2 separate regions of the Homo sapiens genome follow, and region 2 is linked to region 1. Evidence: fine-mapped expression QTL. A gene starts in region 1. The other region holds a variant in brackets. All regions are shown on one strand. Distances are from middle to middle.

What was found. PIP is the estimated chance that this variant, and not a neighbour inherited with it, causes the effect.
Region 2: its variant is the best candidate, but not a certain one, in a credible set for the expression of CAAP1 in thyroid (GTEx, PIP 0.67).

Annotation. Positions count from the first base shown.
Region 1 is chr9:26,890,260-26,895,644 of GRCh38, reverse strand. CAAP1 (caspase activity and apoptosis inhibitor 1) reads left to right here and starts at 2,843. Exons shown (of 6, transcript NM_024828.4): 1 at 2,843-3,232. The coding sequence starts at 2,930. RefSeq lists enhancers at 2,614-2,683, 2,285-2,864, 2,814-3,033, 3,114-3,293, 2,865-3,444.
Region 2 is chr9:27,044,720-27,050,104 of GRCh38, reverse strand. It overlaps IFT74 (intraflagellar transport 74), which reads right to left. Exons shown (of 20, transcript NM_025103.4): 14 at 5,310-5,363; 15 at 2,734-2,831; 16 at 1,831-1,957. Among named protein-coding and RNA genes, the nearest start is that of LRRC19, 42 kb to the right of the region's middle. The variant A/G (reference allele first, on the strand shown) is at 2,857.

The DNA of each region.
Region 1 (5,385 bases):
GTCGCCCAGGCTGGAGTGCAGTGGTGCGATCTTGGCTCACTGCAAGCTCCACCTCCTGGGTTCACGCCATTCTCTTGCCTCAGCCTCCTGAGTAGCTGGGACTACAGGCGCCTGCCACCACGCCCAGCTAATTTTGTTTTTGTATTTTTAGTAGAGACGGGGTTTCACCGTGTTAGCCAGGATGGTTTCCATCTTCCTCATGATCCACCCGCCTCGGCCTCCTAAAGCACTGGGATTACAGGCGTGAGCCACCATGCCTGGCCCAGACTCTTCTTTTAATAAGGACACCAGTTATATTAGATTAGGGACCCACCCTTATGACTTCATTTAACCTTAATTACCTCCTTAATGACCCTATCTCCAAATTCAGTCACATTGGGGTTAGGGATTCAACATATGAATTCTGTGGGTGATGTTATAGGACCATCAGGTTCTATTAACCACTACATGGTACCAGACCAATACATGGAAACAGCAGGAGTTGCAGCAGAGAAAGAGTTTAATAATGGTATGCCAGCCAAGGGAGAAGATGGGAGGGAACCTCAAATCACCTCCCCAGTAAGTTTTTGGACAGGGGTTTTTAAGGGAATTTTGGTGGGTAGGGGGCTGAGGAGCTAGGGGTTGCTGATTGGTTAGGGCATGGGGGATGTAATCATAAGGAGGTAGAAAGTGCATTCTTGTGCTGAGTTCGTTTCTCAGAAGGGGTCTTCAGACTGAGTAGCATCAGTGACCCCACTGATATGGTTCCAATGACTGGAGGAACACCACAGTCTTTTGTCTCGTGCTGGTTTAAATAAAACGATACAGACACAAGTGGAATTGTTTTAAGGAGCGGAGAATTTAATAGGCAAGAAAGAAGAGGCTCCCTCATACAGAACCAGAGGGAAGAGGGCTCCCAGATGAAAGAGGGAACCTTGGGTGCAGCAGACAAGAGCCAGTTATATTATGAGGCTGGAGGAGGTGGTGACTAATTTGCATATGACCCAGGGAATTGGTTTGACCAGGTATGTCATTCACGTAGCCTGCAAAAAAAGTGGCCCTCCCACCCTAGCCTTTTAATATGCGAATGTAGGGTGCCACAATGTTCTACACATGTGGGGATATGTGGGGATGGCCATGTTGCTAGGCACATGTGGGGACAAGAAGAAGAGGGGAATCGCCATACTGAGTAAACCCAGTTTCTAACGGCCTGCATTTGCATATCATAGCTTGCCAGCCCAGCTTTTTTGCTAGACAAGAAACATTTCTGGAGCTGCTTTAAAAGAAAAAAAACTTCCCAAAGACCCCTTTACCTCTCTATCTGCCTAAAATAATTTCTTAACTTCTGTAACACCATTGGAGTACAGAATCTGGTAAATATCTCAAAATGGAAAACTTGAGATTTCTTAACCGAGTCAAAGATATCTATAAAGCAATAAGCAGCTATAAGGAAGTGGGCTATAGGAAAAGTTGGTTAACGTTTAGCTATGCTTCTACTAAAAGCTTATCTTTTGTCACAAATCCAGCAATTTGGCAGGGCACGATGGCTCACGCCTGTAATCCCAGCACTTTGGGAGGCTGAGGCGGGTGGATCACCTGAGGTCGGGAGTTCGAGACCAGCCTGACCAACATGGAGAAACCCCTTGTCTACTAAAAATACAAAATTAGCCCTGCATGGTGGCGCATGCCTGTAGTCCCAGCTACTCAGGAGGCTGAGGCAGGAGAAATGCTTGAACCCGGGAGGCGGAGGTTGCAGTGAGCCGAGATTGTGCCATTGCACTCCAGCCTGGGCAACGAGAGTGAAACTCCGTCTCAAAAAAAAAAAAAAGAAAAAAGAAAAAATCTAGCAATTTAGTTTTATTAAAATTATGATGGTTTCAGGGACACAATTCATAACAGGTTTATAAATGTAACATGTTATTAATTTTATGTGTTTTTCCTATCTGTGAACACAACACTCTCAATCCTTTCAGGTATGACTCCAATGAGTGTGATACTTAACGGAACTCCTGGGAACACAGTGGGCTCAGCCCCAGGATTTACCTTACAAGGCCAATTTAAGAGTGGGGCCTGGGGGAAGACAGTTTTCCTAGGGCTGGAAGTGTCCCTATTTATTAACCCTAGGCTGGTTTTAGGCATTTAAGTAGTTGTTGAATGACTGAGACAAATAGGAGACAAAGAGAAGGGAAGCTTCTTTAATTGCTTCTTACCCCAGGGAAAGGCACAGAATTACTACCACCCAGCTAGCTTTGCCCCAGGCTCTACCTTTTTCCCTCAGTGGCTAAAGGCCCCTGCTGAAACGACAAAGACCTTGGTTCACGTTTTAAGTGTTCTAGCTCCCTTGTCTTAAAATCTGCCTTCTATTTAGATTACATCCACCCATAAAATCTCATAAAGCTTTGACCCATTCTCAATTTTCAAAAACGAACTCAAGCTCTACTTGTCCATGTCAGACTCTACGCAAGAAATACCTAATTTGCCCAGGTGATGAGGAAAATGAGATGGAACAACTTTTCCCTATTCTCTTTATTGTCATAGCGTTGTTAATATCTTAAGATTTGGAGGTAAACGGAAATGGAGAATCAGCAACTATACTTCAACCTTATTGTAAACAGACAAAACACTAACAATAAAAAGTTTTGAAGTTAAAAGGACGTAAGTTCCACCTTCTATCCTTTGTAGAGATATAAAAACAAAACAAAACAAACTCTGACTAGACAGGCTACCCGCTACACACTCAAATCGACCTCCGCGACCGGAGGGGGAAGCGCAACTGGTTATGGCAACCCCCCTGCCACCCCGGCCCATAACGCTTCACCACGTTCTGTGCCACGGCCGGAAGTGACGCATAACCTGCGACGCCAGTGCCTGCCGCCCACGGCCGCAGGAGTCGGGCTTCGGTCGCACCAGAGACAGCGGACTTTCCTCCGATGGTTGCAGCAGAGGGATCATGACGGGGAAAAAGTCCTCCCGGGAGAAACGGCGCAAACGTAGCAGTCAGGAGGCGGCCGCAGCGCTCGCGGCCCCGGACATCGTACCCGCGTTGGCCAGCGGCAGCAGTGGAAGCACTAGCGGCTGCGGGAGCGCCGGGGGCTGCGGGAGCGTCAGCTGCTGTGGGAACGCCAATTTTAGTGGAAGTGTCACCGGCGGTGGGAGCGGCGGCAGCTGTTGGGGCGGGAGCAGCGTGGAGCGCAGCGAGCGCCGGAAGCGGAGGAGTACCGACTCTTCCAGCGTCTCGGGCTCCTTGCAGCAGGTGCGTGCGCGCCCCTCTGGCCGCTTCCTGGAGCTGCTGCTTTTTCGGAAGAAGTCGGGCTTCCAGAGGGATGGGGCGCAGGCTGGAGCTCACTGCTAGCGCGGCAATCTCAAGGTCGTCCGTCCTTGAGGTTCATGTTCCTACCTAAGTCCTGGTGAGCCCCACACTCCCATCCGTGTCTTGAATCTTGAACTTCAAGTTTCTGGATTTCCTGATCACTTTTTTTTTAATTTATTTTTTAAACTCTTGGCTCCTTCCACTCCTATGGTTTCACTCTGCCGGAAGAATACGAGTTGGAAGCTAGCCTTCATTTCCCTTGCGAGCCAAACACTTCTCCCTTCGTCTTCACCTTTTCGTAGATATGGTTAACTCCGCATTAGAGATAAGAAAATTGAGGCCCAAAGAAGTTAAACTTTACCCACGGTCACAGAGTTTGTTAATAGCTCCTAGGTTTGAATCCAAATATCTGACTACAAAAGCCATGTTCTTTATACGCCACCAGTCTGCCAAGAGAACGCCGTTTTAAAAAAGTTCATAATTTGTTTGAAAACAAATGAATGAATAGGTACTTTAAATTCATTCAATGAGGAAATAAAGGGAAAGCGTCAAGTCCCTTTTCTTGCCCCTCCATTAGTATTTTGATACGCGGCCTCTTTTAATCACTCCTCGTGAGATACGTGTTTTTAAGTTCCTACACTTAAGCTGTATTGTGTTATTCCCGCTGTTGAATACCTGCATTGTTGTGATAGGCTTCTTTATATACGTGGTTTGTTATTTTTACTGACTGCCTGGTATTGTATTATATTTTTCTGATATTTGGGTGTGCAGGTTTTTTTGTATTGTTGTGACTACAATACAAACACCTTTATGTATATATCTCCTACAAGAGTTATGTTGGGAGAGAGTGTGAGAACTGAAATTCCTGGGTCAAAGTTTATGCTATTAAAAACTTATGAATGCCACCAAATGCTTTCCAAATGAGACTTTACAGATTTATAGTCCAAACAGTATATATATAAGAATACCTATTTCTGAGATTCTTAACTAGCTTTTGATGACATTTTGATGGCATTTTTTAAAAAAATTGCCAGACTAGTGGGTCAAATTAATAGTTTGTTTTAATTTTTATTTTCCTTATTAGTGAGATTGAACATTTTAATATTTTTATTTGCCATTTGATTTCTTCTTATGTAATTTTCTGTACATATCCTCTGCTCATTATTCTCTTTGGTAGAGTAGAAACAGTTTATGTAGAGATTTTATCAGGTGGTTTTCTGGCATTCTGTTGAGATGATCACATACTTTTTCTCCTTTAGTCAGATAATGTAATTTGTTGATAAGTTAGTTGATGTTGAACAGTCTTTGGAGTCTTGGGACAAGTGCTGTTTGGTTTGTTGAGTTTGTTGTACTTGGCTGGAATTCAGTATTTTTACTTTCATGTATGTGTTTCTTTTTTTTTGTTTTTTTTGAGACGGAGTCTCGCTCTGTTGCCCAGGCCGGAGTGCAGTGGCGTGATCCCGGCTCACTGCAAGCTCCGCCTCCCGGGTTCAGGCCATTCCCCTGCCTCAGCCTCCCGAGTAGCTGGGACTGCAGGCGCCCGCCACGACGCCCAGCTAATTTTTTGTATTTTCAGTAGAGACGGGGTTTCACCGTGTTAGCCAGGATGGTCTTGATCTCCTGACCTCGTGATCCACCCGTCTCGGCCTCCCAAAGTGCTGGGATTACAGGCGTGAGCCACCGTGCCCGGCCAACTTTTATGTATATGTTTCTAAATTAGATCAGACTGTAGTTTTTATTTTTGTAATGGATTGAATTAGGAAGCTTTGTGTTTTTTTGGTGTGTTCTAGAATGGTTTATATTTTCTTCTCAAATATTTGTCAGAAGTATCTGGGTCTAGTGGAGTTTTTTAGAGTGATTTTTTAAGACACTCTTTAAAAAAATTATTTAATATAGATCTATTCAGTTTTCCCACCCCTTCTAGATTCAGTTTTGGATATTACCATTCTTATTTTAAATAGTTTCCTTTTTTTTTTTCTTTTTTTGAGATAGGCTCTCACTGTGTCGCCCAGGCTGGAGTGCAGTGGCACCATCTCAGCCCACTGCAACCTCCGCCTGCCAGGTTCAAGTAATTGTCCTGGCTCAGTCTCCTGAGT
Region 2 (5,385 bases), 150 kb before region 1:
GCCTGGGCAATGAGAGTGAGACCCTGTCTCATAAATAAATAAATAAATAAATAAATAAGGCTAGTCCTAATTGAAATGTCGTGAAGATAAAATATCTCTTTGATCATTTTTATATAGCTTACATGTTGAAATAATAACTTGGCTATATCAGTTTAAATACAATATATTATTAAAATTAATCTGTCTCTTTTTACTTTGTCAACATGGCTACTCGAAAACTTTATATAAATATAATATATACTGTCATTAAATTTCTCTTGGACAGTGCTGCTCTAGTCTCATGATAGCAAGCATGACTGAAACTAATTAAAGTGAAACATCATCTCTTCTTAACTATCCAAGACTAGGCTGGATATGTGCCCTATGTACTTCCGTTGCTCCTTATGCTTACTTCTATCATAGCATTATTTCATTGTATCATAACTGTCACTCCACCAAGTTGAAAGTTTCTTGAGGAAACAGATTAGATTTTTTTAAGCCTCTTATACTGACAAAGATTCAATCCTTGACCAAACTAGCTAGGCTCCTCTGAGCTCTCTTCTCAACTAGGCCTCAACCTCTGCCTATAAAAATTCCACTCTCAGCACAAATGATTTCATGCACCACCTTCTACCCACATTAGAAGATTTAAACAAACAGTTTCTAACAGCTCAAGTCTGCATCCCTGGGATGACCCTATCCCCACTTAAAGTGCCTGCCAGACAAAGCTCAAGGCCGCCGAAAGAATGTACTATTTATTCTAGCCCGTACTGGTCAACAGGCCCCTGACTACCCTTTCTTAGGGTATCCAGTTGTGAATCTTTCCTCTGTACCTTTAAGATGTATATGTGTACTAGTCTATTTGCATTGCTATAAAGGCATACCTGAGACTGGGTAATTTATTTTTAAAAAATAAGTTTATTTGGCTAATGGTTCTACAGGCTGTACATGAAACATGGTGCCAGCAACTGCTTCTGGTGAGGGCCTCAGGAAGCTTACAATCATGACAGAAGGCAAAGGGGAGCCTGCATGTTACAAGGCAAGAGAGAGAAGGAGGAGGTACCAGGCTCTTTTAAACAACCAGATCTTGCGTGAACTCACAGAGAACATACTAATTACTGCAAGGATGACACTGAGCCATTCACGAGAGATCCGCCCCCATGACCCAAACATTTCCCACTAGGCCCACCTCCCACACTAGAGGTCACATTTCAACATAAAATTTGGAGGGGACAAAAAATCCAAACCATATCTGTATGTACCTCCCACAACTCAGGAGTATTTTCCTCAAGGACCTAAAAGCCATTCCATTAAAACGTGATTATCAGGAAAGTTAGGGCCTCTGTCTGCTAGTCTGTGTATAAACATAGACTCCTAACTTGATAATTGCCAGCTAACAGACACAGCTGGCCTAACCAGCATGTACATTGATGAACCCTGTAATTTTTCATTTCCCTTACTACTCCCTCATTCTCCCTTTAAAACACTCAATCACCTCTGTACAAATCAAAGTTGATTTCAATTCATGCTGGACCCTCCTGCCTTACTGCCACGCTGTATTACTGACTAAAATCTATCCTTAGCACTTTAACATGCATCCAGCTTTGTTTATCTTTAACAATATCCAGAATTATATAGCACAGGCTTGAAATAAGTATTCAATAAATGTTGTTAAATCAGTGACAATATACAACATAATACTAGCCAGCTGATGAAAAAAGCCACACATAATTCTGGGGCAATAGGCAATCATAAATTATAGCCTCTGTCAATGAGGCTTTAAAATAATCAGAGAATAACATTGATATATTTTAAAAAAAAAGAATATTAAAATCTAGGTTGTTTTCTCACCTGAAGTCAAATTCTGAGCTGTACTTTGTGATTTCTGCACTTCAGTAGATTTAAAATTGAGGTCATCCTGCATCATCTTTAGCTCTTGATTGGTGATAGAGGATATCTGTTCTATACGATTTATATTCTGCATTTGCAGAGAAATAAAAATAGAAAAAAATCCACTGATTTAGTTAGTTCTCAATAAAACTCTTGGAAAACACTGTCAAAGGATGAGATGTTTGGATCAGGTATTTTTTTTGAAATACACCATTCAAGTTATATATTGTATAGAAAATGAGATTCCAAATTGGGTTTTCTCAATAAAGACAGACTATAAATTCAAAATTGTGGGTTTTTTTTCATTTCCTTTATTTCACTGCAGAAAAAATTCAACTACACTATTTTAGAAACTGGTTGGAGTCTTAAAACACTAGAATATTGAAAGGGGGGCATGCATTTCATAATAGATGCCCAATAAACATTTTTTGATAATTTGAGATACTCATTACATATACATACAAGAATCTTTTTATTTACAATAAATTTACAGTATAAAAATACATTAACATTTTCTAACATGTCTAGATTTTGAAATTATCTGTGCAAATGTTACTTTCAAAAGTTCAGATAGATTAACAATGGAAGAAGATCATAATAATTACTCTGAATTAGTGCTTCATTTACTGCTGAATATTGATATTATACATGTCATCCTTTTTCTCTATTGCCCTAATTACCTGACATTTTGCTAGAGTGATAAAAAAGTTAATAGCTGAAATAAATAGTAACAAGTAAGGGAATTGAAAGGAAGCAGTTAAATGAGAAGATACAATAGTGAGCCGTTCTATTTTTTGAGTTGTATTTGGAAAGTTAATCACGGCAAAAATAAAGAGGACACCAAGACAGGCACATGGTACTCACTCGACTGCAGTGCTCCAAGAGTGCAACAATGTTGGCTTCTATCTGTGCCTTTCGTTTCAGTTCCTGATTCTTTGTTTCCTCAAAAGTCTCAATAAAAGCTGACAATTGGAAAACATAAGAGAG[A/G]TTACTGCTGATAGAGTTAACACTATATAAACTCTGATTTGCAGTTCTTAAGAGTGCTTTTTAGAATTTTCTTTTTTTGAGACAGAGTCTCACTCTGTTGCCAGGCTGGAGTGCAGTGGCACGATCTCGGCTCACTGCAACCTCCACCTCTGGGTTCAAGGGATTCTCCTGCCTCAGCCTCCTGAGTAGCTGGGACTACAGGCATGCACCATCACGCCCAGCTAATTTTTGTATTTTTACCAGAGACAGGGTTTCACCATGTTGGCCAGGATGGTCTCGATCTCTTAACCACGTGATCCACCCGCCTCGGCCTCCCAAAGTGCTGGGATTATAAGCTTGAGCCACGGCACCTGGCCCAATTTTTAGAAATTTTAAGCTGCCACTGTTTAATTTGTTATTAACCCAAAGGTAATTATTATTCAATAAGAACTTTATATACTTTCAAACTGCCTAAATCCTGTGACCTTGATATAAGTAAATCAGAAAGTTATAAATATAAGCTCAAAAGAAATAGCTGATAAAATGACAATCAGAAGAAATTTGCTTTTATAAAGATCTCCTTTGATACATCAATAATTATTAACACCCTGACTACTAACTTTATTTCTATAATTTCCAATGCTGAATACCCATTTTATCTGAAAATAAGTATTTTATTTACAATGCTGGATTCATTTCAACTAAATGAATTTAATAATGTATTCAGATTGTAAATAAATATTCTAGGAAATTATCTTTTTACTTGTTTAATATAGAAACAGCTCTTATTTACATTTTCGAGTATTTCTATGGAGCATCTAAAAAATAGAAACTTTCAGTCAAAAATAATTTTACTGTTAGCATGAATAACATCAATAGCTTGCCTTCTGTAATGGATTCCCATTATACTTTTTTCTTATATTTAGCATATTTTTTAAAGTAAAACAGTCTTCAACAAAACATTTTTTATTTGAATATGGTGGTAGAGGACCACAATCAACATTTTTTATAAAACTGAATTTTCTTTAATGTCCTGCTTCAGCATTCACACAGGTCTTATGTGTGAATATCCTGCTTCTATAATCTGTTGATCACACATTAAGTGGACATATGAGATTTTTACATATACAAAGGCATAAATGAACATTGTCTTTCAGGGGTTATTTTTTAAGGAAAACAAACCATAATTAATATGTGGAAAGAAATCTGAGCTAGGTGACCTTCTATTTTAAGATTCTGTAGTATAGGAATTCTTTCCATTCATTCAGTAAACATTCATTAAATGAACACTTATTGACACCTAAGTGCCAGATACCACACTAGGTAGTATCTAGTAATTTCCAATACTGTGGTGTCATGACACATTGTTCCTTGATTTTACACCTTTCTCCTTTACCAAAAGACTTAAAAAAATATTTTTGAGATAATTTTTGGTATTTACTGACATTTTAAAGAAAACTTGGTACATTGTAAAATAAGAGGTGACAATTACTCTTTTATTGCATGCCTCCATGAAGGTAACTATTGACATCAGACCTAGATGAAATTCTAGCACTTCGCTAGAATTCAGATTCCAGCAAAATGATAACTTAAAAGGAAACCAGTAATTGAGAATACATGCCAATTTTTTAAAAAAATTATAAATGTATAGGTTTAAGTGAAAACCAATTTATAAAATCAGGCTGAGATTTTTTTTAAGTGAATCAAAACTAACAAAAGGCAACTAAAATTATAGCTGGTGATAGAAAAAAGTGACAATATCTGATGTGAGGGCTAATAAACAATGAGATAAGTATTATGGAAAGCTAAATATAAAAGTGAAAGATACTAAAGGTGAATATAGTGAAGCATGTAAAAGAGAACATTCAATCAATAAATGATCTATAGCAGCAGTCCCCAACCATTTTGGCACCAGGGACCATGGAAGACAATTTTTCTATGGACCAGGGCTGGGGGCAGATGCGGGTGATGGTTTTGGGATGAAACTGTTCTACCTGAGATCATCAGGGGTTAGATTCTCATAACAAGAGTACAACCTAGATCCCTCATACGCGATAGGGTTCACACTCATATGAGAATCTAATGCTGCTGCTGATCTAACAGGAGGCAGAGCTCAGACGGTAATGCTCGCTTGCCAGTGGCTCACCTCCTGGTGTGCGGCCTGGTTCCTACCGGTCTGCAGCCTGGGGATTGGGGACCCCTGGTCTATAGGTTTCCTCTGTACAGACTACGAATGTAAGTACTAGCTTTAGAATCTAGCCCCAACGTATAGACACTCATCACATATCTTTTTAGAATTTTCTACCCATCTCTAAATTATGCTAGAAACTATTCTTCAAGGCAAAATGCTTTGAATGTCCACACTTCTGCATTTATTAGCCATTATATCTGCCCAAAATGAGGTCTCTGATTTGGTATAAATGAACAGCAATCTGAAAATATTATATTTTTATATCTACAAGAATATCACTTACTGTCCATATGTTCCTCCCTTTTCTTTAGCTCCTTGTATTTCTGGTTCATTTCACCTATGAGAGATATAAAATACAA